Linked DNA regions of Homo sapiens: all the other regions are linked to region 2. Evidence: fine-mapped expression QTL. A gene starts in region 2. Each other region holds a variant in brackets. All regions are shown on one strand. Distances are from middle to middle. Region 1 has its middle 32 kb from the start of LINC02517. Region 2 holds the start of ACOX3 (acyl-CoA oxidase 3, pristanoyl). Region 3 has its middle 62 kb from the start of TRMT44.

Evidence for each region. PIP is the estimated chance that this variant, and not a neighbour inherited with it, causes the effect.
Region 1: its variant is fine-mapped to the expression of ACOX3 in blood mononuclear cells (TOPMed, PIP 0.98).
Region 3: its variant is fine-mapped to the expression of ACOX3 in whole blood (TOPMed, PIP above 0.99). The same link has a PIP of 0.9 or more in testis.

What each region holds. Positions count from the first base shown.
Region 1 is chr4:8,346,698-8,357,219 of GRCh38, reverse strand. It overlaps a transcript of ACOX3 not described here. Among named protein-coding and RNA genes, the nearest start is that of LINC02517, 32 kb to the right of the region's middle. RefSeq lists an enhancer at 3,381-3,931. The variant C/T (reference allele first, on the strand shown) is at 4,563.
Region 2 is chr4:8,433,717-8,444,130 of GRCh38, reverse strand. ACOX3 (acyl-CoA oxidase 3, pristanoyl) reads left to right here and starts at 3,408. Exons shown (of 18, transcript NM_003501.3): 1 at 3,408-3,483. It overlaps TRMT44 (tRNA methyltransferase 44 homolog), which reads right to left and starts at 3,354. Exons shown (of 11, transcript NM_152544.3): 1 at 2,690-3,354. The coding sequence starts at 3,308. RefSeq lists silencers at 2,941-3,000, 3,051-3,260 and enhancers at 2,729-3,462, 3,281-3,520, 7,825-8,004, 8,305-8,644.
Region 3 is chr4:8,497,855-8,508,376 of GRCh38, reverse strand. It overlaps a transcript of TRMT44 not described here. Among named protein-coding and RNA genes, the nearest start is that of TRMT44, 62 kb to the right of the region's middle. RefSeq lists enhancers at 3,308-4,195, 9,226-9,726. The variant G/C (reference allele first, on the strand shown) is at 4,643.

The DNA of each region.
Region 1 (10,522 bases), 87 kb after region 2:
AGTGTGCACTGTTCTCCTTTCCCTCACCTGCTGGCTTCATGTTAGCATGCACCGTTCTGCTCACTTTCTTCCCCTCACCTGCCGGGATCATCTTAGCATGCACCATTCTGCTCACTTTCTTCCTCTCACCTGCCAGGATCATGTAAGCGTGCACCGTTCTCCACACTTTCTTCCTCTCACCTGCCGGGATCACGTTAGCATGCACCATTCTGCACACTTCCTTCCCCTCATCTGCCAGGGTCATCTTAGCATGCACCATTCTGCTCACTTCACCTTCTTCTTCTCGCCTGCTGGGATCATGTTAGTGTGCACTGTTCTGCACACTTTCTTCCTCTCCCCTGCTGGGATCATGTTAGTGTGCACCGTTCTGCACACTTTCTTCCTCTCACCTGCTGGGATCATCTTAGCATGCACCATTCTGCTCACTTTCTTCCTGTCACCTGCTGGGATCATGTTGGCGTGCACCATTCTGCACACTTTCTTCCTCTCGCCTGCTGGGATCATGTTAGCGTGCACAGTTCTGCATACTTGCTTCCCCTCACCTGCCAGGAACAGGTTAGTGTTCCCCATTCTGCACACTTTCTTCCTCTCACCTGCCGGGATCATGTTAGCGTACACCATTCTGCACACTTTCTTCCTCTGTGTACGTGTGTGTGGTTTTCCTTTCAGAAATGGGTCATACTCTGTGGACATCTTTTTCCACTTAAAGTGATGGCACAGCCATTTTCCCAGTCAAGTAACATGAATGTACAAGTTTAGCAAACTTCCTCCTGAGAGATGGAGAGATCAAGGCTTCTGCTCCGTGGCAGCCATCCGTGCACATGCATCACTGTGCGTGAGTTGGTCCCAGTGGCTTGCTGAGACATGCTCTGCACAGGGGAGATTTCTTATACCAGCAGTGTGGGAGGCAGTGGGGCAGGTAGAGCCACAAGTGGGGATGAGGGAGCAGAGTCTAGGGCAGGCTCCTGGATGGACACCAGCTACACTGTCTATTGGATGTGGGACTTCCCTCACTGATGAAATGAATAAGAGAATCTTCCTCATCCTGCTGTTGTTGGCGTTAAAACGGGTTAATGCATGAAAGCAACAAAGCCCGGCCTGCAGACAGCACATGGTAAGTCTCCTCTTCCCAGCATGTTCAACAGGAAGCCCTCATTCCCTCTAGAATGTAGGAGTCTTGCCAGCAGTGGCCTGTTTGTTCTCTGCCTGTTGCCGACCTGATGAGAACATAAAATTGGTGTCTTCTGTATAGATTTCCTTCTTATTGCCCCTACTGTGGCTGAACATACCTTCCCCCGTGCTTGAAGTCTGTTCATATATGTTCTGCTGTGATAACTGCCCATTCTTGTTCTCTATCTAAGAAGGCATTTAGTTTTGAAAATATTTTGTTGGCTTGTAAGATATTTGTACATATTAAGCACAGCAAACCTGTAACATATTCACTGTAAATCATTATTCCTCATGCATCATTTGCCATTTAACTGTATTTTTTTCCTTTTTGATGTAACCTGCTATAGTTTACATTTTTAAATCAGAAATGCCTGCACATTTTAAAACGAAGACTCTTATGCTCTAGCCTTTGAGGTCATGCTTGGAAAGTCCTTTCTCACACAAAGATTATTTACACTTTCATCTCTTTTTCTCTGAGTACGTTTCAGTGTTTAATTGACCAGGAATGTATTTCGAGGTGTGATATGAGACAAGGATCTGAAATGCTTTGCCCACTGAATCATCATGCACTGACCGAAATGCCACCTGTATGAGTGCTAAAATCATTGTCGCTGGACCTGTGTCTGCACTGTTTAATTTTAGTGTTGTTTCTCACATCAGCTTCTGTTGTTTTCATGGTTGTGGTTCTCATACTTTTAATATCTGTTGGAGCAAATAAAGCCTCGTTTCTCATCTTTTCCAAAAATGTCTTATGTATGTGAACTTTGGTGTTATTTGTCAAGTCTGGGCATTCTCCCACCCCCATATTAAAGAATGCTCTCTGGAGTTTGTCTGGAGGTTTTGTTTAACTTTTAGATTCACATCAGGAGAATCTTTGTCTTCATGGTAAGTGGTCTTCCCATCTAAGACTATTTCTTCAAGCTGTTTGTAATAAAAAGCTGTGTGATTTTTGTATGTTTATTTTGGTCACCTTATTGAAACCTTATTTTAATTATGACAGTTTTTCATTGATTCTCTTTGGTTTTCCTTCTCTATCATTGGCAAATAGTGATGGTTTACCCTTACCCTTCTGATATAGTTTGGCTGTGTCCCCACCCAAATCTCATCTTGAACTGTAGTTCCCATAATCCCCACGAGTCATGGAAGGGACCTGGTGGGAGGTAATTGAATCACGGGGTAGTTACCTCCATGCTGTTCTTGTGATGGTGAGTGAGTTCTCATGAGATCTGATGGTTTTATAAGGGGCATTCCTCCTTTTAATTGGCACTTCTCCTTCCTGCCGTCATGTGAAAACGGACGTGTTTCCTTCCCCTTCCGCCATGACTGTAAGTTTCCTGAGGCCTCCCCAGCCATGCTAAACTGTGAGTCAATTAAACCTCTTTCCTTTATAAACTACCCAGTCTTGGGCAGTTCTTTATAGTAGCGTGAGAACGGACTAATACACCTTCCAAAACTTTTACCCGTCATTTAACTTTCCTGTCTAATGACATCTGCTGGCCCTGCGGGATCAATCTTTCACACCATGCTGGGGAACCATTGCTTGGTGTCTGCCATTATGGGAATGCCTTCAGCCTTCGTATTAGTTTGATGCCATGTGGACGGTGGACTGGAAAGACAGTCTTGCTTGGCAGTGGACACAAGTGTGTGCCCATGGTTGTGCCCGTGGCCAGAAATCTCTGTGACTCACCAAGGGAGATGCCTGCAGAATGAGAGAAGTTTCTCACTGTGAGCTTAAACACAGAGGGAGCTTCCTGCGGCTACACGGGGCCAGCTGGGATGCATGCCTGCAGAGACATCTCAAAACCACAGGCGGATGAAGAAGATAAAAATCAGCCAGACCCCATCATCTGTGAAAGCCCAGAAATATCTTGGGGTTGAGGTCTTTGCGGCTGTCACTGCTAAGGATCTTGATGGTGGCGGAGGCGTGGGAACTCTTTCATTTTAGGATGTGTAGTTGACATGGAGCAGCCTCTTGGAAACTTGGTTTGGATGCACTTCTGACGGCTCAGCCCAAGCGTGAATCACGTTCCCCCATCATTGTGTATCCACCCCACCCTCCAGGTTTTAGGTGGTTCCAGCCCCTGGGCTGCCGGCCAGCAGGGAGTGTCCATCTGACCAGCATTTAGTGAACACCTAGCTACACGTAGCACTGTGTGGGGACAGCATGTGCCATAGGACCACCTCCTCGTCACCAGAAACTGCCTTCCTCCTTGACTTTGTTCATGTGGGCCTTTTACTAAGACACTTCACAGGCTTTTCATGGGTCCCATGGGGCCGTGTCCCCATCTGAAGCATGCCCCAGCCATGGGTCCCCTGGAAGTCAGGGGGTCTTGGCTTCTCTCCTTGTGTGGTGGACCCTGTGGGCTTCCTGTCCAACTTCCAACCCTTCCTCCTCACTAACAGAACCCCAGTTCTGTCCAGATTTCTCCCCAGATGTGGACAGCCCCAAGCCTTGGGAAGCTGCCCTGCCCCAGCACTGGCACTGGTTCGCCTTAGCTGAAGTGCCCTAGCACCTTCCATTCCCTTGGCCCCAAGGACTGGCTCAGTGATGAGGCAAAGTCCAAGGGTCCTGTTGAGTCTTAAAGACTGGCTGGGGACGTTGGGACAGAAGTGGCCTCTCACTTCCGGGGGACATTGCCCTGGACACTTAGGAGCTTCAGGTGGCCTCAGCCATGGTGCCACCACGATGAGACCAAAGCCACCCTATGGAGTGGGGCATGCCATGGGAATCACGGACCACAGTGGAAGCACAACTACAGGCCGTGACTGCAGGAGGACAGGGCCCTGGATGGACGACAACTCTTCCCTCTCTGGCTTGCAGTTCTCCTGCAGAACTGACCGAATGCAACACCCTGGAAAAAGGAGGAAATGACCCGAACAGCCCAGGGTGTGGCCTTGGTCCTCCCAGATAGGATACTCTGCAACACGTCTGCTCGGTGAGCCCAGTGGTGCCCAGGGTATAAAAACCAGGGCAGAGCACTTTTGGGTCCCTCTGCAGTGCAAGGTGGGCATGCACAGATGCGACTCCGTCCACCCTGGGTGGCTCTCCTGAGCCCTGGGGCCATGGCTCGAGTGGAGCCCAGGCTTCTGTTTGGACTTGCTGCCTGCCTGTGAGCATCCTGTCTCTCTGGACCAGACCTAGGAACCTTGGAGGTGGCCTTCCTGGTGTGGGAGCCGCCTCCTAATTGCTCGAGGCAGCTGGGCAGGGTGCGACAGACTTCTTGCACGGAGCCCCAGCATTGGCCACGGTGGGGACTGCTTGGCCCCACAGGCACGTGCAGAAGAACCCAGCTGGGGGGCTGTGGCCCTGCCGGAGCCTCTACTCTCCATGTGAGGAGGGGAAGATGCGCTCAGTCTCTGGCCTGGGCGGGCCTGTGCCGCATGTGCTGTGC[C/T]GTGGTCCCCGGCACTCTCGCCTTTGCATTCCCCTCTGGGGCCACTTGCTGTCATGCAGCTTACATCAGAGGGTTTCCCTTGGGCTCTGGGCTTTGATCCTAAATCTGGGAAGTCAGGGCCACTCTGCATGAGAACCCAGAAACCGGTGTTCCTGTGGCTTCCAGGAAGGCCCCACCCACCTGCACCCATTCAAGTGCAGGGACTGACCTCAGCTCATTTCCATCCCACCAGGCTGTCCAGCAGCCGCCCAGGAAGGGACTTGGTTTGCTTTGTGAAGCTTGGAGGAGGATGTCCCCAGCTCTGCAGTGGTCAGTGGGAGCCCCGTGTTGTGTTGTGAAGGGAAAATGTGCAGTGACTTGTGGAAGGACCTTCCTCCATTCACCCCCTCCATGTACACCCTTGCCTAGGAGATAGACGAGGAGGTTTGCTCAGTCCCGGGCGGCTCTGTGCCCAGCCACTGCACTGAGTTTGGAACAAGGTTTGCTCAACCTTTTATGTGGTTCACAAGCTCCATCTGAATTCTTTCAAGCAAGGAGGCCCACATTGTGCTGAACTGTTTGCTTTGCAAGAGAAAATACACATCTAGTCTTACAGGGCCGAGCACTTGGGGAATGAAAACAACCCAAGAACAGCTGCCCACGCGTCCTCCCTGGGTGTTTGTTCTTCGATGCATTATTTGTTTGCCAAAAATTCTTGACATCTCTTGAATTGTTTTTTTCTTTGCTTCAGAGCAAGGCTTCTAAAAACAAAATAATTTTTTAGGAAGATTTTCCTACGTCATCATCCTTAAAGACCCTGGTCGATGTCTTTTCTGCCAGCCTTCGGGACATGGCACAGGAGCGTATAAAGCAGACAGGCTTGGGAGTTAGGCCCAGGTTCAAATCTTAACTTTGTCATTTGCTGTGAAGTGGCACATTGGGAATGTTTCTTAACCTTTCCAAATTGGTTTCCTCCTATGTAAAGGTTGTAGAACTACCTGCCTTCCAGAGTCCTAAGCATAGGCTGAGATAATATATGTGAAAGTCTCTAACAGTCCTGAGCACACAGAGGGGCTGTGGCTAGACTGGACCCTAGGAGCTGGGCCCAGGAAACTGTACTCCTTCTTGTACCCTTAGACATTTCTGATGGCCACAGTCTCAGGACCTCTGCCTATTCACTGGGCCTGAATTCTGAGGAGGAAAGGGGGGTGGTCAGTGTCCCTGGGGGCAGGGGAGGGGCCATCCGTGCGCTGGTGAAGCTGCTGAGGTGAGGACAACAGTCCCGCCCTGTGTTCTCTGTGTCCTTGCCCGTGTGTGCCCAGGCCGGCTCTGCTCTCGGCTTCCGGTTCTCCCTCCTCAGTGTGGGGCTTTCTCAGGATCTAGGGTAGCCACAGTGTGAGCTCTGGGCGGACCCTTGTCTGCGCATCCCAGTCCTGCACAGAAGGCCTGGCCCCTGCGGAGCCTGGCCTTTGTATCTGTGTGAGCACCACCCCTACACACCTGGCCATCTAGCCCTTCCCAACCCAGGACGGCTGGGAGGCGCTCCCCCTCTGTGCCCTCCCCACCCTTCCCCACGTCCCTGACCAGCAGCCTCTGTGTGGATGTGAACATAGTATAGGCGGCAAGACTCGAGTTTCCCCTGGCGTCAGGGTCACAGGAGCCTGTCACCTTCCGACCCAGCCATGGCCTGTTCTCCAGAAGGAATCACTTGGTGGGCCTCTGTCACCATTGGCTGCAGCAGCCCCAGCCCTCAGGACAGCACTGACTGGGCCTGGCCACTCCTCTCAGCGGCCTGGAAGCTCGTGGAGCCCAGGACCCAGGTCTGGAGGGTCCCTGTCTCCAGCTCCCAGCACAGGGCCGCACACAAACACTGGGAAAGCACTCAGCAAGCCCTGGAGTGGAATGGGGGAATGATGAACAAGTGAAGTGAGTGAATGAAGAAGTGAGTTAATGAATTAAAGGAATGAATTGGGCAGGTCTAGATGGTGAAGCAGGAAGGGGGCCATGCTGGCCAGTGCGCCAGTGCCGGACTTCCAGGCATGGCCTCGCCACTCCAACCAGTGTGGGTCTCTGCCCTCCCCACAGGAGACATGGGCTCTGCTGTCCCCCAACTATGGGCTGTGCATGAGGGGCCGGCTCCCCTCTGTTCCCCTGACCAGGGACGGGTGTCTCCTTGCTGTGCCTCTCGTAGGACCCGCGCGTGAGGGGCTCAGCTGAGGTCAGTGGTGAGCCGAGGAGCTTGGACGGAACCACCTCTACACCAGGCAGGACGTGTGGGCAGCCGCAGAAATCTTGCTGCAGTATGCCATGGCTAGATGGAGTCTGCCAACCAGGGAAAAGTCCACTCTTCCTTGCAATATCATTGCATTTTAAATTCTTTAAAAACCATCACCAGGAAAAAAAATTTAAAAAGCTGCGGCTCCCTTCCAGTCCTATTAAATGAGCAAATGCTCTTTCCAGAGATCCTTACTTGCCAATTACAGTAACTGAGGAATTTTGTAAGGTATGCATTTCTTTTCGCATATAGGAATCCTGTATAAAATAACAGAGCACTGAAGAAAGACTCTGAAACTGCCAAGGGAGGTCGGCCCGCTGCCCTCAGCCTCTGGCATTCTGCATGGGATCCTGGCCTCTGGGTGAAATGTGCTAGAGCTGGGCTTCAGAAACGCAGGCAGGTTCCTCCTGGCCCCTCCCAGAAGTGAGGTCAGCATGGGAGAAGCCACTCCAGGGAGGAGATGACCCTCTGCCTTTCCTGAGGGAGAGGAGGTCAGCAACAAAGACCTTGAAGGTCCCGGGTCTTCCTTTGCAAACACAATGCTGTGGGAGTCCTAGCTCTTTACATCCTTCCCTGGAGTGATGACCACACAAGGTGTTACAGGTTCAGTTGCATCCCCCTACAATTTGTATGTTGAAGCCCTAACCTCCAGGAGTGCAGTGGTGCGATCTTGGCTCACTGCAACCTCTGCCTCCTAGGTTCAAGGGATTCTCCTACCTCAGCCTCCCGAGTAGCTGGAACTATAGGTGTGTGCCACCACGCCTCGCTATTTTTTTTGTATTTTTAGTAGGGACAGGGTTTCACCATGTTAGCCAGGATGGTCTCTATCTCCTGACCTCGTGATCCGCCCACCTCTACCTCCCAAAGTGCTGGGATTATAGGCGTGAGCCACCACGCCTGGCCAAGACAGGGCTTTTTAAGAGGTGATTAGGCCGGGCGCGGTGGCTCACGCCTGTCATCCCAGCACTTTGGGAGGCCAAGGTGGGTGGATCACCTGAGGTAGGGAGTTTGTGACCAGCCTGACCAACATGGATAAACCCCATCTCTACTAAAAATACAAAATTAGCCTGGCACGGTGGCACATGCTTGTAATCCCAGCTACTCGGGAGGCTGAGGCAGACAAATCACTTGAACCCAGGAGGCAGAGGTTGCTGTGAGCTGAGATCGCGCCATTGCACTCCAGCCTGGGTGACAAAAGCAAAACTCTGTGTCAAAAAAAAAAAAGTGATTAAGGTAAAGTGAGGTCATCAGAGTGGGCTCTAATCCAGTCTGACTGGTATCCTTATAAGAGATGAGGACACAGACAGTCACAGAGGGATGACCAGGTGAGGACACGGAGGGAAGGTGGCATCTGCAGGCCGAGGAGAGAGGCCTCAGGAGAAACCAATCCTGTCGACACCTTGGTCTCAGACTCTCAGCCCCCTGAGCTGTGAGAAAATAAATGTCTGTTGTTCCAGCCCCCAGTCTGTGGAACCCCACTATGGCAGCCCCAGTAGACTGATAATCATTCATTCCCTGTGGGATTTTTGTGAGCCCAGCCAGGGACCAGATGATTCCACCTATTTTATTTTATTTTATTTTATTTTATTTTATTTTATTTTATTTATTTTATTTTACAGACAGGGTCTCGCTCTGTCACCCAGGCTGGAGTACAGTGGCACGAGCTCAGCTCACCACAACCTCTGCCTCCCAGGCTCAAGTGATTTCTCCTGCCTCAGCCTCCCGAGTAGCTGGGATTATAGGCACCCGCCACCATACCCAGCCAATTTTTGTATTTTTTTAGTAGAGATGGGGTTTCACCATGTTGGCCAGGCTGGTCTTGAACTCCTGACCTCAAATGATCCACCCGCCTCGCCCTCCCAAAGTGCTGGGATTACAGGCATGAGCCACGGCGCCCAGCTGATTCCACCCATTTTAGATAAGGAAACTGAGGCAGAGAGAGGCTTAGTGGCTCATCTGAGGTCCCTCTGACAGTGGGGCACACCATACCCTGGGGCCAGGTTTCAACTTCTGGTCCAGGCTGTCACCTCCCAGAGGAAAAAATCACACGGTTTAGGGCTGCTGGATGATACAGGATGTTCAAGGGAAGCTGTGAGGAGGCACGTGCAAGCCTGGGAGGCCCAGGGTACAGTTGGGGCCTGATGCAGAAGCCAGCGAACTGCCATCTCACTTCCTCTTCCACCAGCCCTCCAGCCTCCAGAGCCCATCCTCCAGTGAGGACGTGGGCCATAGGAGGTCAGGAGCTGGCATGCAAACTCAAGTTCACCAGGCTCCAAAGTGTACTAGGGTGTCGCTGGAGAGAAACTGCAACCAATTTATGATTTACAGGGTCGTTCGCGCACATTATCTGATACCATCACCTCATGCCCATCACAAGGTCAGGATGAGCCCCGTTTTCCAGATGAGGAGACTGATTTCCAGAGAGCTCAAGTGACCAGCCTGTAGCCCCTGAGTGAGGGAGGAGAGGAGCCCTCGCTGCCTCTGCCCTGGTCTCTGCCCCAAATGAGGAGCTCCCACGGGACTGGGCACTGGGCACTGGGCATGGGGTAGGGGACCTTGCAGTGCTGACACTCAACGCATCAGAAGGAGGTGCTGCACCACCCACCCCCCTGCCATGTGCTACAGAGAACCACAGGCAAGGGGCATGGAGACGACTCAGTGCTGTGGGCTCTGGATGTTCTGCAGCAAACTCCTCCTTCTAGAAGGTTCCTTCCCTCCGCCCTCACTTCTGAGATGGCGCTGAGTCCATGGAGGTACACAGGGAATTGATACCTGGTGCCACAGAACACAGTTGGGTGATTCTTTCTGATTCTGAGTACTTGGGACAGGCAGGGTTTTAAAGACTCAATCTAAGGAGCATGTCAAGGAACAGATTCAAGGTAGGCTTGGGGTGGTCCACCCTCACCAGGACCCATGGAGAAACAGGCAGCAGCTGGAGGCTCAGACCTCCCTCAGCTCCCCTACGGGGGTGTGTTCTCTGGCTCTGCAGTGAGGTAAGCCTACCCTAACCCTAACATGAACCCTAACCCTAACCCTAACCCTAACCATCACAGAAAGTGCACGGGGCAGAAAGGCAGAGGCTTGCGGTTCTGGTGGCATCTCTGTAGTGACCTCGGTTTTAGGCCCTGCCTCAGTTCCCCTCTCTGCAGCCACAATGATGAAGAGGATAACAGCTCTGGGGATGCTGCTCCCCTACCCCCAGCCCAGGCATCCCACCCCAGGCCTGGCCCACCTACCAGGAGTTCCGGGAGCCGAGACGACACTGCTCAGGAAGCTGTGACACCATCCCCAGCCCAGGGGACAGGAGCCCTTTGTGGGGACAGCATGAGGCCAGCGTGGCTCCCTGCCCAGCTGCTGGCCTCAGCCCCGTCTGGTCTGTGTTTGCTCACGGTCTTCCTGAAGCCAGGCTGGAGAAGCGCCCCCGGGCCGGCCGCCGGGCAGTGATTTCCTTTCCCTGATGTGCTCCAAGACCAGGCTGGTTTCCACAAACTCCAGCCCCCACCTGGGCTCCACACTTGCCTGACGTGACCTTGAAACTCTAAGATAATGAGCTTCAGAGGCACAAGAGGGCTGTGGTGGCCGCCGTCCATCAGCGCCAGCCTTCCAGCCCCTCCCCACCTACCTCACCCTCCCGAGACCCCTCCCCAACTTCTCCCAGACGCTTCCCCCATTTTAACCCAGTGTTCACCCTTCATGCCTCCTGACC
Region 2 (10,414 bases):
TAGATGAGAAAACCAGGCGTTCAACAGATTAAGTAATCTGTCTCAAATCCACATAGCCTCAAACTGAATTCTGTTCTTTAACTAAAGAAGTCAAGTTCTTAACCACTATGTCATCCTGTCACCTGCTACTAACAGTTAAGATTTCTTAGTCACATTCCTTTTTTTTTTTTTTAGACTGAGTCCCCGTCTGCTGCCCAGGCTGGAATGCAGTGGCACAATCTTGGTTCACTGCAACCTCCACTCACCGGGTTCACGTCATTCTTCTGCCTCAGTCTCCTGAGTAGCTGGGATTACAGGCACCTGCCACTACGCCTGGCTAATTTTTTGTATTTTTAGTAGAGACGGGGTTTCACCATGTTGGCCAGGCTGGTCTCGAACAGTCACATTACTCTTAAGACCTTCGTGATCTTACCCAGAATAGGGCCAAGAAATATACAAAAGTTGCAAGAGCATCTCCACTTCACACAAACAGCAGCTAGCATTTATTAGGCACTTACCATGTGCCAGGAACTATTCTAAGCACTTTACAATGTATTAATTCCATTTAACTCTTCCAGCAACTCCAAGATATTTTATTATTATCCTATTTTACAAATGAAGACACTGAGGCACAGAGAGGCTCTATAACCTGCCCACAGCCATACAGCTTGTAATTGGCAAGACCAAAATTCAAAGCCAGGCTGTCTATATTCCATGGAGGATACAAGTCCTCTGGTGAGCCTTCCTGGCGGGAACTGAATATAGAAAGCAATCCTGAAAACGTACTCCTTGTTGAGAGGGAAAACTGCCTCCCTGAGAGGAAGAAAGGAAAAAATTCTGTCCTACCCCTCTGTTCAGCGAAGTCTACACATGAAGGCCTCACGGGCACTGCCTCTCCAATCCTCAGTCCAGTGGATGGACAACGTAAAATGGTTAAGATTAGAACACAGTTGATAAGAGCTGGAAGAACTCCTAAACTAGACTGGACTGGCAGAGAGGCCCCCTGGAGGAGAGGACACCTAGAGTCTTACAAAGGCACAGAGGCAGACAGTATTGGGAGCCATCAGAGGGGACTATGTACCTCCCAGCAATTGCTGCCTGAGGTAGGCAGAAGAGCCTCCCAAAAGTGTCCATGCCGTAATACCCAGGACTCGTGAATATACTGTATTATATGGCAAAAGGGGCACTTGCAAACATGATTATGGTTACAGACCTCAAGAGGAAGAGTACTCTGGATTATCCAGGTGAGCCCGGCCTAACTCCATGGGCCACGAAGAGCAGAGAATTTTCTCTGGCTGGAGGCGGAGGAGAGAAGCAGCAGGAGAGGAAGGCAGAGAGATTCCAAGTATGAGAAGAATTCAACCCCATTGCTGGCTCTGAGATGTAGGAAGCTGCATGAAAGAACCAGAAAGAAGCCTCCAGCAACTGACAGCCAGCAAGGGAACAAGGACCCCAGTCCTACATAAAAAATTGGATTCTACCAACGAACTGAATGAGCCTGAGAACAGATTCCTTCCCAGAACCTCCAAATAAGAGCCCAGCCGGCAGGCTGTTTGATTTTGGCCTCGTGAGAGAGACCCACAGCGGAGAAACCAGCAGAGCCAATGGGGATTCCTAACCTACAGAACTGAGACAATCAATTTTTTGTACTGACCAATGAATTTGCAGTAATTTGTTACAGTGGCAATACGAAACACATGCTGCTGAATAAAGTTTCAGGTAAGAGTGGCTGAGGCTGAAGTGTCAAGGTCACGGGCAGTAAAAATAAATGCCAGAGATTTAACGAACGCTGAGGACTAGTAGGTTCCCATCCATCCAGTCTCTATGCTCTTTCACAGTTATTTGTCTCAGCATAAATAGCTCTCTTTATGTTGGGGAAAAGGCTTATGGCATGCCTGTATAAACTGGCCATAAAAATATGAGACAATAAGTTGTGGAAAGCCACAAGAGGCCTCTGAGGAGGAAAGCCTTCTTATTGTCATGATGTTCCCATGCTCTGGGCGAGACCTACTGTCTTACCTATAAACACTGTGTTCAAGGAGAAAGACACTCCTTTGAATCACTACAATGTGGTCAGACATGCAGGCTCCTAGTTAAGCACGCTCCCACTGGTTATTCTCCGACAAGTTAAAGATAACGCTGTTTGAGCACAAAGGAGATTCATTTAAACCGCCACTGCTATAGATGACATGTATGATGCACTGTCTCCCTTTCACCCTTTCGCCCCGAACGTCCGCTTCTTAGATCTAAGTGATTGTACTCAATAGTGTGGAGACCAGAGCTCCCAGGCTTTGGCAGCCTCCATTTTGCAATTGGCCCCCTGGCCCCCAATCTTTATGCACTCTTAACCTGTCTCGTCTCATTCCTTCGTCGCCACCGGACTTTGAGTACCCTACGGGTGGTGTTGAGGCTGGTCCCCAACACTTTTACACCTACAGCTTTACCTGCTAAACTCCTAGGTATTACGCAATATCCAGCTAGTCCTTCACTGTCTCTTTGAAGCCTTCCAGACACCACCCCAATCAATTATCCCATCTTCTGTACTAAGGACACACATTTCTATGCGCCCACTCAAAAAACTATGAAACACCTAACAACCTCCCTAGGACATCGCAGAGGAACTAGTACCCTTAGGACTTTTTCATTGACCCGAGGTTCTATGAATGCTTTTTTATCTAATCATATCCGTCCACTATCAAAACACTCTTACCTTGCACGACTATTTCCCTCCTGGGAGTTGTAAGGGGGCAATGTGGGCTAGTTTTCGGGATGACGGTTCTGAGAACCACGTCGAGCTCACGCTGCGCCTCTGGCTGCGATCCCGCCCCGGAGCTGGTGAGGAAGGCCAGCAACTCCGAATTGCCACGGGCGAGACTTTGGGAGAAATCCTCCCAAAGCGAATCCAGATCTGCGGCGGGGAAGTCGCCCTCCCTTCCTTCAGCATGGCCGGGGTGCCCGGAGTCCCTCAGGGGCACTGAGGCGGCTTCCCTCTGTGCCTCCTCTTGCTGGCACTGGCCCTGGGCCTCCTCAAGTTCGCAACATGCCGTGCCCTGCTCGGGTCCTGATAGCGACCTGGGACCCGGGCCCCCTCCGGGGGAACCCTGGCCGGGTCCCGGACCCCGCTCCTTCTGCTCCGAGCCTGCGCTAGTCCCGGGGCCGCGGGCCTCCGCGCAGGGCAGGGCGGCGCTCCAGCGGGCCTCCAGGCGGGCGCCGCAAAGCCGTTTGTTTGCCACCTGCGGCCTCTCCAGCCACACTTCGACCGCAGCCCAGAAGCCCTGTGGGAGAAGCGCGCCTGGGTAGCTGATCCCGGTACGGCCCACCTCAGCCATGGCAGCCAGCAGGTGTACAGCCCTGGCAGCGGCGCGCCGAGATGACGCAGCCCGGTGGCGCGGCGCGTTGACGTCATGGAGGCGGGGTGCTGGGACCGGAAATGAGAATGGCGCCGCTGGAGATCCTTTCCTGCTTTTGGTTTCCCTGGCAGGGGTTGAACTGTGGAGTGTGTGGGTGAGGAATTTGACCTGTGTTTTATTCCCTTTTGAGAGAATTCTGGGCGTGGTATAGTTACAGAATCAAACATCAGCCAGCCAGCGGGTGTGGAACGCATTGTCCTCAGTACTGATTACCGATAAAAGTCAGGGAGCCTAAGTTTGTGAACGTAAAAGATGAGTCCTCTTATGAAAGCTAACTTTTCTCCACTTGGGTTCTGGTTTGCTTTTAGTGCTGGCATTACAGCCAGTGCCTTCCTAAGTCTGAGTGCAGCCATGGCTGTTTCATAAGAATGATGTAACGTTGTCCCATGAGGGATGAAAGTCATCTGTCACCTACTGTAGCAGGACAAGCCACAGACAAAACTCCTCAGACACCGGATTAAAGAAGAAAGAGGTTTATTCGGCCGGGAGCATCGGCAGACTTGCGTCTTAAGAGCTGAGCTCCCCAAAAAAGAAATTCTTGGCCTGTTTAAAGGCTTACGACTTTAAGGGTCCACGTGAAAGGGTCGTGATAAATTGAGCAAGCATGGGAAACGTGACTGGGGGCTACATGAATCAGCTAACAGAACAGAAAGTTTTGCAATGCTTTTTTCATACAATGTCTGGAATTTACAGATAACACAAGTAGTTTAGGTCGGGGGTTGATGTTATTATTATTATTTTTTTTAACTCCTAGGGCCACGTGGTGGTGCCAAGGTTGTCTGGCTATTTATCTGACTTTTGTTTCTTTCTAACTTTTTGCTTTCTCTCTTTTCCTCCTGTCTTATGAACTAGGCAAGGTGGCAGGGAGGAGGGCAGCAGGAGTAGTAGTGGTCTCCTTATCCCTTCCTTTGAGAATTTTCACAAATTAGTGGGAGTTCTCGCTTTTATTTTTACTTTGAGTCTCTTTGGGAGACAGAGTGATAGTGTTTTATGTAATACACTTGCAGTGAGGGTTTTAAATTCTCTTATAGCTGGAAACTATCTTTTAAATAAAGACCTAGGATCAAACCTGTGTTAAACCAGTACAGGCACATGTGCCAACTTTGTCATGTCCTAAGCAGGTTAGTTTTTTTACTGGGTCTTAAAAGCTTTTTTCCTAGCAAGCAACACAGTATTTCTTAATAATAGGAGTTTTTAAGAGCCAAATGCTTGAACTTGGCATCTGCTTGGGGAAAGAGTTAAAGTAATCTTGAGGCATTAAATCTTTTGCTTCTCAAGGCCATTGGTCTCTCATGTTAGCCTTTTTATAAACATAACATGAAGAAACGTCTAGGCTGCTGGCAATGTTTTCAGCCAGCTGAGCAAATAGGTTGTTTGTTTGTTTTGCTAAAGGAGGAGGCTCTTGTAACTTCTGGTTTATGTGTTTAAAGAATGACTTAAAGACTCGGAATTGTTGCTGGGCTGGACGGGTCTGGGTTTCCTGACTAAGTAGTATGTGTACAATGGGGACACCTTATATAGGTGTTTCTTCTAGCATGGTTATGGGGGGTAACAATAACAAAACAATATACAGCATATTTGTATCCAGCAAGGACAAAAGAGGTCCTTACCTGGGAAAAAGATTGAATACAGTGACAGAACAATAGGAAAACAGTATTACAGGAAAACTATTAGTCTTAAGATTTTTAACTACGTTTACTTGCTTGACAAGTCCTCAAGCTTCGGCCATGCGTAGACTATTCAGCTGCCAGTGCGTGACTAGAGCCGGGCTTGTTGTTTCTTCAAGCTTCAGCCGTGTGTAGACTGGTCAGCCTCCGGAGTGACCAGAGCAGGGCTGTCGTCCTCAGCAACAGCTTGGTCTCGTCTCCGAATCAGCCGGGTAGGAAGATCTGTGTCCTGCTGGCTGGTCTACTTGTCCTGAGCTGCCAGTGTTAGCTGACTGTGATGGATCTAAGACACAACACCTGCAACTTTTAACAGCAGTGGGAGTGGAAAAGATTACAGTATAAGGCCCATCCTATATGGGTCCTAGAAAAATTAGATTTTACTTTTTAACTTAAACAGAGTCACTAGATTTAAAGGGGTGTCAGGCTTATAGGCATTTTTATGTATTTAATTATAAACACTTTGTATGGCTATTTCTAAAATCTGCATTTGCTTTCTTAAGGTTAATTCCTTTAGTTCTTGGAGGTCACCTTTAATTTGACCTGTGATTTGGGGGTGGCCGACCGAACAAAATCTTATAGGGTAAATACCTAGTTTGTTTGGTGAGGGTGCAGCTGACTTGAAGGAGGACCATAGGCAAAAGCCTGATTTTATCTTAAATGAATTTCCTGGCAATATTTTTTTCAGTAGCTGCTCGAGTGTCCAGTTCATGCACTCCACTTTTTCTTGAACTTTGCAGCCAATAGGCTGTGTGTAACTTCCATTTTATTTTTAACAGTCTTGTTAAATCCTGCCCTATTTCAGCTACAAATGCTGGCCTATTGTCTGACTTTAAAGTTAGAGGCAGTCTAAACCTGGGGATAATGTCTTTTAACAATACTTTAGTCACTTCTTGTACTTTTTCTGTCCTGGTGGGGAAAACTTTAACTTACCCTGGAAAGGTGCAAACAAGCACTAGCATGTACCGATAGCCTCCAGCATGAGGCAGTTCTGTAAAGTCTATAAGCAAGTTTTCACAAGGTATGGCTCTTTTTCCTGTTTAAGTTTCTTAGAGGAGGGGTTCTTTTTCTTTCCCCCCTTTGTAACTCTATCTAGTGGCTTAGCCATCAGTGAGAAATTGGAATCCAGATATGGCAGAATCCTGCTGCTTTTAACTTCTAATGTGACAATGGGCTCCTGGGAGCCTAATAAGAAGGTGCCTAGTCTGCCCTAGTCTTTACATTCTTTAGCTCCTGCCAGCCTGATCAGATCAGTATTTGGTTCCTCCAAGGTGCGGCAGCCCTTGGCCAATGGCCTCTTTGTCTTGCAGCCTTGGCCATTTCTTTTATTGCCTTCTGAACATTCACCCTTCTAGTGTCCTTTCTTTTTTCATCTCACACATTAATGTCTCTCTAGCCTTGGCCGGCTCTCGAATCCTTGCCTAACTTGACTTCTTCCACGTCTACATCCGTGTCCACGTCCTCTCGCATTGCTAATCTCTCTTTTTATAAGAGCTGTTGCTAACAGATTGGCCTTTTTCCTTAAGTCTTTGTTTTTCTTTTTCCTTCCTGAGTTCTCCTGCTTCTATGGCCACCTGGCGGGGCCAGGCAGTGGCACAGGCCCTGCCCCCGCGCACTGCTGTCTCTCCCATTTTCTTCTGATTCTCTTTTTTACACTTACTGTGAGTCTTTCTTTTTGTTTTGCTCTTCTCTTGGCACCGGTCTCTAGCCTCCTCTTTTTTTCTAGATAGAGCTGAGCCGGGGAGAGGAATTTAACCCTTGGCGTGCCTAGCTGCCGCACTTGTTGCTTTTGCTCTTTCCTGTTTTGTTCCTTGGTCACAGCTAACATACGCCTTGGTGGCCACTTTTATAGACTGGGTGATATTCATGCCTGTAGCTTCTGCTTGATGTTACCCTGGGCTTGCTTTACAAACGAAGTATTCACTATATATATATTTATATATATATTTACATATATTTTTTTACATATATATGTAAATATATATATTTACGTGTATATATTTCTATATATTTACATATATTTGTATATATATATTTATATATATTTTTTCGAATATATATATATGCTGATTTTTTTTTTTTTTTTGAGATGGAGTCTCGCTCTGTTGCCAAGGCTGGAGTGCAGTGGTGTGATCTCGGCTCACTGCAAACTCCACCTCCCAGGTTCACACAATTCTCCTGCCTCAGCCTCCCGAGTAGCTGGGACTACAGCTACCCGCCACCACGCCCAGCTAATTTTTTTGTGTTTTTTTTTTTTTAGTAGAGACAGGGTTTCACCATGTTAGCCAGGATGGTCTCGATCTCCTGACCTCTTGATCTGCCCACCTCGGCCTTCCAAAGGGCTGGGATTATAGGCGTGAGCCACCAGCCTCAGGGTTAAATAGGATGTAAAGCCAGAATGCTTTACAGAGTCTCTTATAAAACTGACTTAGGCTCTTGTCAGCTCCTTGAAGCACTTCTGAAATCTTTTTTATATTAATTGCTTTTTTTCTACTACCTCTTAGCCTCTGCAGAAGTGCCTCTTAGTACTGCTGCAAATGCTGAAGCTGAGTTGCATTCTCTGGGTCTTTTTTCCCCTTTTTCCTAGATCTTAACAGGCCCTTTTTTAAATATAATTCTCCATGCAGTTGGAGGGTTAAACAGGCATACTGAGAGTCAGTGTAAATGTTTAGTCTTACCTTCACTGAGTTCTAAGGCCTGAATTAAAGCAATGAGCTCAGCTTAACGACAGTGTCCAGGGTTATCACTGCATATCCTGCACATCTCTCTCCTTGTGGGTTGATGAAGCTGCTCCCGTCCATGTATAGCTCCCAGTCTACTGATGCCCAAGGCTGGTCTCGGAGGTCAGGTCTGCTAGAGTAAACTTGAGTCCAACACCTCTACACAGTTAATGCTCGACAGGGCTCTAGCTGCTGGGAACAAGGTGGCGGGTTCAGGGTGTTTCCAGTTTAGTAGATCAATGGTTAAAAAGGGCTGATAGATGAAAGTCTGTTGCCCCACCCCCTGGATGTGGGCTTGGTCATTATAATAGACAGGTCCTCGTGTCTCCCTGAGAGGCATTTGCATAGCTCCAGCAAGACCAGATCTGAGAGGGCCCACTTGACTATCTTGACTTCCTTCCTTGGCCTCTTGAGGCTCCGATCTTCCCCTTCAAGGTGAGACCTGGGGCATGTTAGCTCCTTAATCTCGTTTCTCAGGGGGCTGTTGGCCTCGGTAAAGGGGGGTAGGCTGGGCCATATGGAGAAAGAATTTCTGTTATCTCTGGCGGCTCCTGCAAAACTGGCTTCTCTTGCTCTTTCTGGGACTCCCCTTTTCAACTCTGTGTCTGCTGGTGCAGCTGTTCTTACTTTCACTTTTGGCTTTTTTGCAATAAGCTGTTAAACAGGGCTAAATTTATGCTGGTTTTTGTCTATATTATATTTAACCATGAATCAATATAAAGGAATTGATCTAGGTCCACTGGCTGTCCTCCAACCCCTGTCACCACCTTAAATACATGGCCAATTGTTCCCTGTCTGTAGTTCCTTCGGTGGGCCATCCAACACCAAAAGAGGGCAATTCTTTTTTTTTTTTCTTTTTTTTGAGACGGAGTCTCGCTCTGTTGCCCAGGCTGGAGTGCAGTGGCACAATCTCCACTCACTGCAAGCTCCGCCTGCCAGGTTCATGCAATTCTCCTGCCTCAGCCTCTTGAGTAGCTGGGACTACAGGTGCCCGCCAGCACGCCTGGCTAATTTTTTGTTTTTGTATTTTTAGTAGAGATGGGGTTTCACCCTATTAGTCAGGATGGTCTCAATCTCCTGACCTCGTGATCTGCCCGCCTCGGCCTCCCAAAGTGCTGGGATTATAGGCGTGAGCCACCGCGCCCAGCAAAAGAGGGCAATTCTAATTCACATAGAGTTCTTAACCTCTGGGGGCTTAACCTCTGTAATCCCCTGCAAAACCTTTCTTAAGGTTCTGTAACATGCATTTTAATAGAGTAAGTTTTGATGATTAGATGACTTTCCTTTTATTTTTCTTCTTGAAATTTTTTTTTAACACAGTTTCTAGCGGAGTGGGCTTACTTTGTGTTTGACCTATTTTTCTCTTGAGACAAAACAACATTCACACTACAAGAAGGAAAGGGTAAAAGGTTACTCACTCGTCTAATTCACACTAAAGGAAAATCAAAACTAAAACCAAAGTGTCATTAAAGGCACACCTGTTTGTCAAGGAATTTAAGCCAAGTCAAAATCAGAACCAAAGCCAAAGTGCCAATAAAGGCACGCCTGTTTATCAAGTAATTCAAGTCAAGTCAAAAACAAAAACCAAAGTATCAAGCATTTCAAGTCAAGTCAAAAACAAAAACCAAAGTGCCGGTACAGGCACGCCATGGGTGATCAGGCCACGCTTCCACTCAAATGGAGTGTGCAAGTTCCAAAGACCAGTCTTACCAAGTTTCAAATGTCCAGACTTAAAGTGCTAGTTCCTTCCCAGTGTTCAGCCACTGCGTTGATCCTCCACGGGGGCTTGCCATGCACCACTCTGACGAGGCATTCCACGGGGGCAAATGCCTACCCGGGAGCACTCTCAGGATCTGCATCGCGCAAGCTGGCTGGAGCCCCCCACAGGGATGCTCTACAGGGCAGGCATAAGCTGCCTAAGGGGCTGGCTTGAACGTCCCTTAATCACCTCGCTTCTCAGTCAGGGAACCAAGAAATGTAGCAGGACGAGCTGCAGACAAAACTCCTCAGACACCGGATTAAAGAAGAAAGAGGTTTATTCGGCCGGAAGCACTGGCAGACTTGTGGCTTAAGAGCGGAGCCCCCCGAAAAAGAAATTCTTGGCCTGTTTAAAGGCTTACAACTTTAAGGGGTCCATGTGAAAGGGTCGTGATAAATCGAGCAAGTGTGGGAAACGTGACTGGGGGCTACATGGATCAGCTAACAGAACAGAAAGTTTTGCAATGCTTTTTCATACAATGTCTGGAATTTAAAGATAACACAAGTAGTTTAGGTCAGGGGTTGATGTTATTATTATTATTATTATTATTTTAACTCCTAGGGCCACGTGGTGGTGCCAAGGTTGTCTGGCTATTTATCTTACTTTTGTTTCTTTCTAACTTTTTGCTTTCTCTCTTTCCTCCTGTCTTATGAACTAGGCAAGTTTGGGGGTAGGAGGGCAGCAGTAGTAGTGGTCTCCTTCCTTACTACATGTCCCCAGGAGGAACAGAGAAGGTTGGATACTGCCAATTTAGCCCAACATTATCAGCAGCTGGTCTGCAGAATCTCTAGTAAAATCCAAAAACCTCCAATATTCTTAATTACTTTTGTACATTAATCCCTCCATTGGGATTTTGCCATTCCCTAAAGGATCTCTGTCGGA
Region 3 (10,522 bases), 64 kb before region 2:
CCAGACCCACCCTCAGGGCCCGGCAGGCCAACCTCCAGCCGCAGCCCCTGCTAATAACAAGGTCACGTCCTGAAAGTCCCTCCTCACCCTCCCACAGCCATACGAAATTGCCCAGGGGCTGCCTCAGGACCCCACACAGAAACCTGAGCTGTAAAACTTGCCAGATGTGAGGCCAGGTATAGTGTCTCATGCCTGTAATCCCAGCACTCTGGGAGGCCGAGGCAGGCAGATCACCTGAGGTCAGGAGTTCGAGACCAGTCTGGCCAACATGGTGAAACCCCATCTCTACTACAAATACAAAAATTAGCTGGGCATGGTGGTGGGCACCTGTAATCTCAGCTACTCGGGAGGCTGAGGCAGGAGAATCACTTGAACCTGGGAGCTGGAGGTTGCAGTGAGCCAAGATTGCACCGTCACGCTCCAGCCTGGGCAACAAAAGCGAAACTCCATTTCAAAACAAAACAAAACAAAACAAATCAAAGCAAAAACTGCCAGATGTGAGGCCACACCTAAGCTTCCCAGGGGGCCTGGGCTTTCTGGGCTCAAGGCTCTGCCTGCTGCCGGATCTGTCACTGGGGGACGGGGCAGGGGTGAAGGAGCGGGGGCCGGAACACGCTGTGTCTCCTCAAGTTTTTCCTGGACTCCTGTCTGTACATGGAGCGACAGCCCTGCCTCCAGGTGACCAGGGGCAGGACCCAGGATCCCAGCAAGCATGCTTGTTTGAACACTTTTTGGATGCAAGTAACAGAAATGAATTCTGGCTTCAGCCAGGAAAGAAGAAAACAGAAAGAAGGAGAAAGAGGAGAAAGGAAAGGAGGGGAAAGGGGAAAGAAAGGGGAGGGAGATGGCAGGATGGTCCCAGAACCCACAGGCAAGGATGCACGCTGAGCTCCGGAACGCCCAGAGCAGGCGCTGGGGGAGGATGGGAGTGCTTCCCGCACGCAGCCTTCCCTCCCGGGGTTTTCAGCCACATCCCTCTGGGTACAGTGTTACTCAGCAGAATAATTCACTGCCAGGCGATTCTGGGCTTCTAAACTATCAGCCAGCCCCTCAAATAGACTTGTCCTTCTTCGTTCACTTCCCCAATGTGGACACGCCCTGGCCTCGCCTGGTCGGGGGCCCCCATGGTGTGAGCACGTCCTCTGCTGTGCCCACATAGGCCAGGGCTGAGGTGGAGGGAAAGAGCCCCCTGTGCCTGCTCGGAGCCGGCCACACTTCTGCAGGGAACACAGCTCCATCCAGCTGTGGGGGCTGAGCTGGGAAGCCCTGAAAGGTGCCTGCTGGCCTCCAGGCCCAGGCCAGGTGGGAACCTGCTGTGGTCGCAGGCCTCCTTGTCCCTTCAGGCAGCAGCTGACTCCCTGTCCACAGCCAGCTGCGTTCCAGTGGGGAAGCTCCATCCCAGGCCTGTCTGATGACAATTCCACAATTCCACCCACGCTGCCTCCAGGAAGCTCTGCTGATGAGGTTCCCGTGGCCCTGCCTGTTGCAGGCGGCTGACCGAGGGCCAGCAGCCCAGCCAGCCCAGCTCACCAAGCAGCATTTCTCACTTGGAGCACGGCAGAGCTGGAGTTGTTTTTATATTTGTGCCAAGAAATGGCTCCAAGCACTGCAGACGTGGGCTCTGGCGGAGCCTCCAACAGGGCAGGCCACGCGGGGCCAGCAGCCTCCTTCCGCCCAGGGGCTGGCCCAGGAGGTGAGAATTCCACAGAGAAGTGCACACGTAGCACTTGGCCCGCTCCCCCTGGGGCAGAGCCATCACCTCCCAGCCCGAGAGGACCCCAGGCTGAGGGGGGAAGGGGCTGCCCAGGTCACACAGGGACCCTGGAATGCGGCAGAGCCCAGCACCAAAGGTTAAGTGAGGCCAAATCAGCAATGAGCATGGAGTGGTGCCCGGGCTGGAAGGACAGTCACTACCTCCCACCCCAGCAGGCGGCTGAGGGCTTCTTTGTTTTTGGTGGAGTCAGGATCTGGCTAAACAGACTGTTAAAGAAATGCGGAATTCCAGTCCATGCCGTTTTCTGGGTAACAGAGGGTTTAGGAGAAATCCCTTCTGCTCCACTTCTGTTGAAAATATTTCTGCACTCCAAGCGCCCTCAGCAGTGTCAGCAGGGCACAGCCCCTCAGCAGCTTGTGACACCCACGTGCCCTGGTCTCAAGGAGGTCCCCAGACATTGCACTGAGCACCAGGTCTCCTTGTGAATGTCCCCATGAGAGCAGGGAGTGCCCCTTCTCTAGCTGGTGTCCCATGTCCTCATCAGGAGCACATACTCAGGGCCACACAGCCCTCGTCCCCAACTATGGTGCTGTGATTTGCTGTGTGTATTCGTCCATTTTCACACTGCTGTGAAGAAATACCCAAGGCTGGATAATTTATAAAGCAAAGATGTTTACTTGACTCACAGTTCCACATGGTTGGGGAGTCCTCAGGAAACTTACAATCATGGTGGAAGGGGAAGCAGGCACATCTCACATGGTGGCAGGAGACAGAAGTGCAAGAAGGAGGAAGAGCCCCTTACAAAACCATCAAACCTCATGAGAACTCCCTCACTATCACCAGAACAGCATGGGGGAAACCGCCCCTGTGATCCAATCACCTCCCACCAGGTTCTTCCCTCAACACCTGCAGATTACAATTCAAGATGACATTTGGGTGGGGACACAGAGCCCAACCATATCAGTGGCCTTGAGCAAGTGTCTCAGCCTCTCTGTCTCTGCTTCCTCATCTGAATGAGAGGGTGACAGTGAGGACTCCCATCTCTTAGGGTTGCATGGGCATGAAACAGTGCAGCTAGTGCAGCGGAGGGCAGGCACATTTGCTGCTCCCCTTCCCCCACAGGGCGTGACTCATGCCCCCCACACCGGCTGCCTGTCCAGGGCCACGGAGGAACCCTGGGGATCTCCATCCACCCTACCACGTCTTGCAGACTAGGATGCCCGGGCTGCAGAGGTGCTGGGAGGTCAAGGTGGCAGAGCTGGGGCTGAGTGCTGGCCTCCCAGGGCAGGAGGCTCCTCCTGCACCCTTGAGCCTGGAGCACCCTCCCTGCATCTGGCCTCAGTGCACCTGACTTCCCACAGGCAGAGATGCCACCTCCTCAGGGGCTGCAGCCTCCTGTTCGCAGATGGAAGATGCAGCTCTGAGGGGTGAGGAGTCACAGCCGGAGCAGCACCCGGACAGAAGCCTGCTCCAGCCAGTTTCTGCCACCTCTGTCCTATCTCTCCTTTGAAAGGTGAGGGACAGGGACCTAGAGAGGCTGCCAGGGCCCTCAGTGTAGCACCGCCTCTTCCTGAGAGGTCACGCAGCCAGGAGAAAGGACAGATCAGCTGTTGTTGGTGGAGGGAGTGGGACATGGAGGGGGCATTCCTCTGCGGCTGGGGGCAGCATGCAGGGGAGGGTGGGTAGAGCAGAAGGTGAGTAATGACCAGAATCAGCAGGACCCAGACCAGGAGGCTGGGGGAAGTGGTAGATACAGCAACAGGTACCCTGCGGGGGCCTATTTAGAATCCAGAGAAGTGGCGTTCAGCCCCAGGGAGCTCAGGGACTGGGGTGGTGAGGCAGACGGGGCTGGCACTGGCAGGGCAGGGCTGCCACCATGGAGTGCAGTTTGCAGGTGCAGCCAGGGTGCCTGGGTTGTGACAGGGGCAAGAGCAAGGGTTTGGAGCAGACCCTTGAGACCCCAGGAAGAGCTCTGCCAAGCTTCAGTGCCCTCTTCCCCACAGGGAGGATGAAGGGAACTTCCTCCCGGGTGGAAGAGATGAGCTATTGAAGGTGGATACAGACTTGGCGCAGGTCCACACCCAAGGATTGGCAGGACCTGTGCACACTACAGACTCGGCACAGGTCCACACCCAAGGAATGGCAGGAGCTCCGTACACGCTGGGGGTCAGCATGGAGCCCAGGTCTGGACACAATGAGTGGGGCGGGGCAGGAGCTGCTGGCTGAAAAGCTGGAGCTGGCACAGCTCCAGGGGAGGAGGGCAGCAGCGCAGGCCCGGGAGGAAGAGGGAAGGCAGTAAAGCTGGCGCGGGTACCTGGCGGGGAAGGGAGCAGGCACGGGCAGAGGGGATTCCCTGCCTTAGTGAATGGGGGCCATTGCTCAGCCCTGCAGGAGCGCAGGAGACTTAGGTGGGCCATGGGGAAAGCCGAGGAGGTGGGGACATGAGCAGCATGGAAATGGTGCTGAATCTCAGGCTGAGGGGCTTACACCATGCCATGTCCATTCCATGCAGTGCAGACCCCTGATGCAGCCCCTGCCCCGCCCTGAGACCCTCCCAGCAGCCACCACCAAGATGCCCACCAACCTCAGAGGCTCAGAGGCTGGAGGGGGAGCAGGAGAGAGCAGGTGTGGACGGGTGCGGGGACTGCAGAGGGCACCACAGGCTCGGGAGCCTCGGGGGAGACGCTCTGTCCCATAGCTTGGGAGCGAGGCCAGGACAGGCTGAGGTTTGCAAGCCTTGGCACCGAGGTGCGTGTGAGGGCTTGCTGGAGACGAAGCTAGCCAGGAGGATAAGAACAAGAGGGGCTCAGAGCCTTCCGGAACTCCAACATTTAGGAGGGTGAAGGGGAAGCAACCAGGGCACTGAAGAACAGCCAGAGATGCGGGGACATAGGACAGAACTGGGAGCCAGGGCCCAGGCCAAAGCAA[G/C]AGAAGAGGAAGCTTCTGGACGGGAATTCTGTTCCCAAGAGAAGCCCTGTGACCACCTGACTCCCGTTGATGGCAGGAACCCTGTGTGGGCATCGGGGTGGAAAGTTCTCTGCACCTTACTGGGTGCTGACTCTTTGCTGTGTTCTCTGAGGTATGTGGCCCAGGAGTTCCACCAAACCCTCCATCCGGGTGGCTGCCTGAGATCATTCTGCAGGCTGGGGCCACAACAGAGGCCACCTCTGGGACCGAGTGCTGTGTCCCTTGCTGGTGGGTGCATGGCCCTGTGCACACTGTCAGCCCAGTGTCCTCCACACCTGGGTCCGGATTCCCATGTGGGTGATTCTCTTGCTTTAGGCTGCTTCCCCGGGGCAGATGCTTGAGCCGGTCCGACTGCTGCAGCCACGGCCTAGGGTCTGCTGGGATAGAGTGCCACCCTTTCCGGGGCTGTAGGGGACAGCTTGCCTTGCAAGGTGAATGGAGTAGACCCTCAAGGGTGTGTGTGCAGAGCGGGAGAACACCCCTAAATGCGGCTCCTGCAGCCTGGGGAAGGGGTCGGGTTTCTTTGGCTGAGAATTGTCCAGGAACCCCTGCCAAGTCCAAGTCCTCCCTCTACAGATAATGAAGCAGAGACCCAGTGGGAAAGCAGCCCAGGGTCACAGCCAGAAACCAAACCTTGGCCTCTGCCTCTCATGTGGGAGGTGAGGGGTGGGGAACGCCCCCTCAACCCATGACATTACCTCATCCCGATGGTATTCAAGCCTGTGCTGAGTCTGTGTGTGCCTGTGTCTGTTGTGTGTTCAAGGGTGAAGAAGAAGTGGTCTTGGGCCAATCCAGAGAGTGGTGGGCAGACCCTGTAGTGGCCCATGTTCCCCACCTCCTGGCACTGACACCTTTGATTAATCTCCCCTGAGTGTAAGCGGGATCTGGGAGCTGGGACCTGGGACCTGCGTCTCACCAATAGCATCCACCAAGGCAATGGCACTGCTTCCTTGACAGCCTTGCATAAGATCATAACTGGTTGTGCTGCTGTGTGTGAGCTGGCCCTGGGAGAGGGCCTGTGGCCAGGAAAAATCAACCCCACTTTGCCAAAGAGGAAACTGAGGCACAACAAGTCTCTGGCCAACAGCCAGCAAGGAATCGAATACTGCCAACATCCTGGTGAGTGTGGATGCAGAGCCTGCCCCAGCTGAGCCTCGGCTGAGACCAACGCCCTGGCTGGTACCGTGATTGCAGCCTGATGTGACCGTGAGCAGGGAACCTTGCTAAGCTGCACTCACACTTCAGACCCACTGCACCATGAGCTAAATATGTGTCCTTGAAACCACTAAGTTCGTTGTAGTTTTTTAAGCAGCTGAAGATTAGAAATATTCAGAAGCTTCCTCTCCCTCCACCTGACCCCCTGCTTCATCAGAGGATTGCAGATGTGGTCAACAAACACCAACAGGAAGAAGGCAGGGCAGGGTGTCTATTTCATGGCGGCTGCCTGTCCCGAGGACCATTCCCATGGATGCACTCAGGGCAGTTTCTGGAGTCATTCCTGGCAGAGTATTCTGAAAACACACCCATTAACCTTCAGGGCTGATATCAACAGGAGCCCCCGTTTTATGGGTCAGAACCATTTTGGAGAATGTCACGTTATGACTCACAGAACCAAATTTATTCTCCCTCTTTGAACAAAACAATCAATAGCCCTTCTGTAAAATTCAGCTGCTGCTCAGAGGACCAGTTGTCTGTCTCCTCCTGGGAGAGGAGTTACTTCCCCAGGGACCCGGGAAGAGGCGGGAAGCCAGCTGTCCCCAGAGTGGCACCAGTCTTCTCAACAGAGAGATGTGGGCAGGGGTCAGGACCAAGAGCAACTTCTGGAACCTTCCAGGCAGCCTTCTGGTTTTTGGATGGAGAGGCTGGGGCCCAGAAAGGACAGGGGCTGCTGAGCTCACAGCCGATGGCAGCAGAGCCCTTGAGACTCCAGTCACTGAGGGCCCCAACTGAGCACCTCCCAGCTAGCTCCCCATAAGAAGAAAGAAGGGAAGAAGGGGAAAGGAAAAGGGAAAGGGGCAAAGAGGGAGAGGAAGAGTCCAAAAACATCTCAAATAGCAAAGGAATGTCCCGTCTGCCGGAGCCTGGTGAGAAGGCCCTTGTGTGAAATCGCTAACCCTCACTGAGTTCTCACAGTGGCCAAGTGCCCGCTAAAGCTGTTAGGCTCCAAATGTACTCAACCTTCTCAACAATCCTCTGCCAAGATTATCCTCATCCCCATTTTTCCCAGGAGGAAACTGAGGCACAGGAAGTTGAGTGACTTCCCCAAGGTTGCAAGTTTTTGAGGCAGAGCTGGAATTTGAACCCAGGACATCCGGTCCCAGAGCTCATGCTGCTATTAATAGCAGCAGCCTACATACCATCTCTCAGACTTCGAACTGCAGGGGCCAACTGGGGGTGGGGTCTCTCCTGCCCCACATCCCCCGATGGACCAGGGGTCCCCTCAGGCCACCTGCCAGCTCCACCACAGGCCACCTCCCGCCCTGCACATGCACAAGCCATCACCTCTGCTGTCACTCTATCCCCAGCACATGGAATTGCCGGCCATGCAGTAGGCACTCAATTGGATCCACTGAGCAGTGGCACGACCACCTGCCCCACAGCTGGGGGCCTGGCAGGGCTGCATCCGGGTTTCTGGCCCAGGGCAGAGCTCCCTCATACAGTGCTTCCCAAGCGTTCTCACCCCCACACTGAGGAAGTGGTTCTATCTATGGGTGCTACAGCACAGGGTGGGGGTCCCAGCATCACAGGAAACACACCTGTCTTCCCAGCACCTTGGGAGGCCAAGGAGGGCAGATCCCTTCAGGCCAGGAGTTCAAGAACAGCCTGGTCAACATGGTGAAACCTCCGTCTCTACTAAAAATACAAAATAATTTAGCTGGGCATGTTGGTGCACACCTGTAATCCCAGCTACTCGGGAGGCTGAGGCACAAGGATTGCTTGAACCCAGGAGGTGGAAGTTGTAGTGAATCAAGGTCAACGCCACTGCACTCCAGGCTGGGCAACAGAGTGAGACTCTGCCTCAAAAAAAAAAAAAAAGTAAACAGTGCCTGCCAGACACTTGTGAAAGGTGGCAAGACTGGCTTCATTCAGACCCCTGGAGTGGGGAAGAGGTTCCAGGACACACTGAGCTGAGTCTCAGCTAAGACTAAGGGGACTAGGGCTTTTAATTTATTTTATTTTATTTATTTATTTATTTTTTCCAGAGGGAGTCTCGCTCTGTTGCCCAGGCTGGAGTGCAGTGGCATTATCTTGGCTCACAGCAACCTCTGCCTCCCAGGTTCAACCGATTCTCTCTTATGCCTCAGCCTCCTGAGTAGCTGCGATTATGGGTGCACGTCACTAAGCCCAGCTAATTTTTGCATTTTTAGTAGAGATAGGGTTACACGATATTGGCCAGGCTGGTCTCGAACTCCTGACCTCAGGTGATCCACCCGCCTCAGCCTCCTGAAGTGCAGGGATTATAGGCATGAGCCACCGCACCCAGCTGTTTTTATTTTTTTAGAGACAGAGTCTCACTTCATTGCCCAGGCTGGAACTCCTAGGCTCAAGCAGTCCTCCCTGCCTCAGCCTCCAGAGTAGCTAGGACTACAGGCACATGCCACCACTCCCAGCTAATTTTTAATTTTTTTCATAGAAACAGGGTCTTGCTATGTTGCCCAGGCTGGATTTGAACTTCTGAACTCAAGCAATCGTCCTGCCTTGGCCTCCCGAAGTGATGGGATTACAGGCATGAGCCACTGCGCCCATAGGCTGAGAGCTCTCTCTCTATTTTGGCTTTTATTTCTTGTTCAAGGGTACATGTGCAGGTTTGTTATATAGTAAACTCCTGACTCAGGAGTTCAGGGTGCAGATTGTTTCATCACCCGGGTACTCAGTGTAGCATCTGACAGTTTTGTGTTTTCTTCTGAACCCGTCCCTCCTCCCAACCTCCTCCCTCAAGTAGGTCCCCATGTCTGTGATCCCCCTCTTTCTGCCCACTGTTCTCATTATTTAGTTCCCACTTATAGATGAGAACACACGGTATTTAGTTTATTGTTGGTTTCATCTTTGGTGGTGGTGGTGAAAGAGGCATGACACTAAATCGACCCTCAGGACACACTAAATCGACCCTCAGGACACTCCCCTCCCTCCCCACCCCACACGCCCCAACACACACGACCTCACCCCTGCCCACCCCCACACTCAATTCTAAAGGGAGAATAGAGACGAAACCAAAATTGGAGGGTTGAAGAAGAGGGAAGGCAAAGGCCTGAGGCTCCGTGGATGGAGAAATGTATGGCAGGTGCAGGAGGACAATTCCTGGAAAGGGTTTGGCCAGGCAGGCTGCGGTTTGGCAGCATTGCATTTTCTTGTACAACACCTCAGCTCAGGGGCTGGGGTCACCTTTAGAGACACGGCCCAGGGCAGGGGGCCCAGGCTGAAGATGGGGCAAGTGTCTCAGCACAGTGTTGGGGCAAGTCTCCTGTGCCGGATGGGAGTTCACAGCTCACCCCAGAGCCCCAGGACCCTAGAACCCAGAGCCACATCTCAGGAGGCCACCTCTAACCCAGGCCTCCTTGATGGCCACACTCTGAAGCTCCTGGGGAACTGAATCTCCAGCCCCTCCTCCTGGGCTGAAGGCCACTGCTGCAGCTGCCCCTGCTGCAGCTGTATCTGCCCCTGCTGCACCTGGAGCCACAGAACCACAGAGAGGGGAAAAGACAAACTCACCTCCCACGAGGGACCCCCTTACCTCTCAAGCTCCAGCTCAAGGGTACCTCCTCTGGGCAACTGGACCACGCAGGGACCACCAGTCCCCGACAAATATAGAGGGCCCCGTGGCTCTAACTGTAAAGGTGGGGTTCACTCCCATGCCCCCTGCCCCTGTATCTGCTGACTCCCCACCCAGAACACATCGCCCCTGGCATCTCCAGACAGGGCACAGTGGCATCGCTTCTACTCACAGACCATCAGCCAGACCTGTGGCCCAAGCTAACACAGGCAGCTGGGAATGAGGGGAGGCGTGGATATTGGGTAGGTGTGGCTGTCTCAGCATGGGACCCTCCTTCAGCACCCTGGCAGGGGGAGACACCGCATTTTATCAAATCTAAGTAAACAGCAGGAGGCATCATCCTTTCCATAACACTGAGAAAGAAAATCGCTGCCCCTCTCTCTCTTCCTCCTGCACTGGCCATATGGAGACATGCCTGCTTTCCCTTTGCCTTCCGCCATGATTGTAAGTCTCCTGAGGCCTCCCCAGAAGCTGAGCAGATGCCAGCATCATGCTCCCTAGACAGCCTGCAGAACTGTGAGCCAATTAAACCTCTTTTCTTTGTAAATTACCCAGTCTTGGGTATTTCTTTATAGTGATTTGAGAACAGACGAATACAGGAGAACACCCCTACAAGAAGGGAGGTGCACGAGGTAGAATCTGCATTTACTCGGCTTTCTGGAAGAAACTGCCAGACCCTGCAGTGCACAGGGTGCAAATCAAGCAAAATGTCATCATCTTCATACCCTGAGGAGTCAGGGGATGGAGTTCACAGCTGCCCAAACTACTGAAAATTGAGGAGAAAACCCCGGAGAAGGGGAACCCACAAAGGGAGGATCTCTAAAACCTGCATGTCCACTCTCCTGACGTCTTCCACTGAGTCCTGATTTGCACTGGAGTGGGTGGGAGTCCACAGAGGCTGGGGAGGGACAGTGAGAAGCATAGCTGAGCAAGGCCATGCTCTCAGCCCAGCAGAGGGCACAGCTCCTGCTCCCTGCCCCTGGGATTTTCCCAGCCCCCCCCACGCCAGCCCCAGTGGCACAGCTCCCATACACCATGCTGTGCAGGTAGCTCAGGTGGGCAAAGGGCAG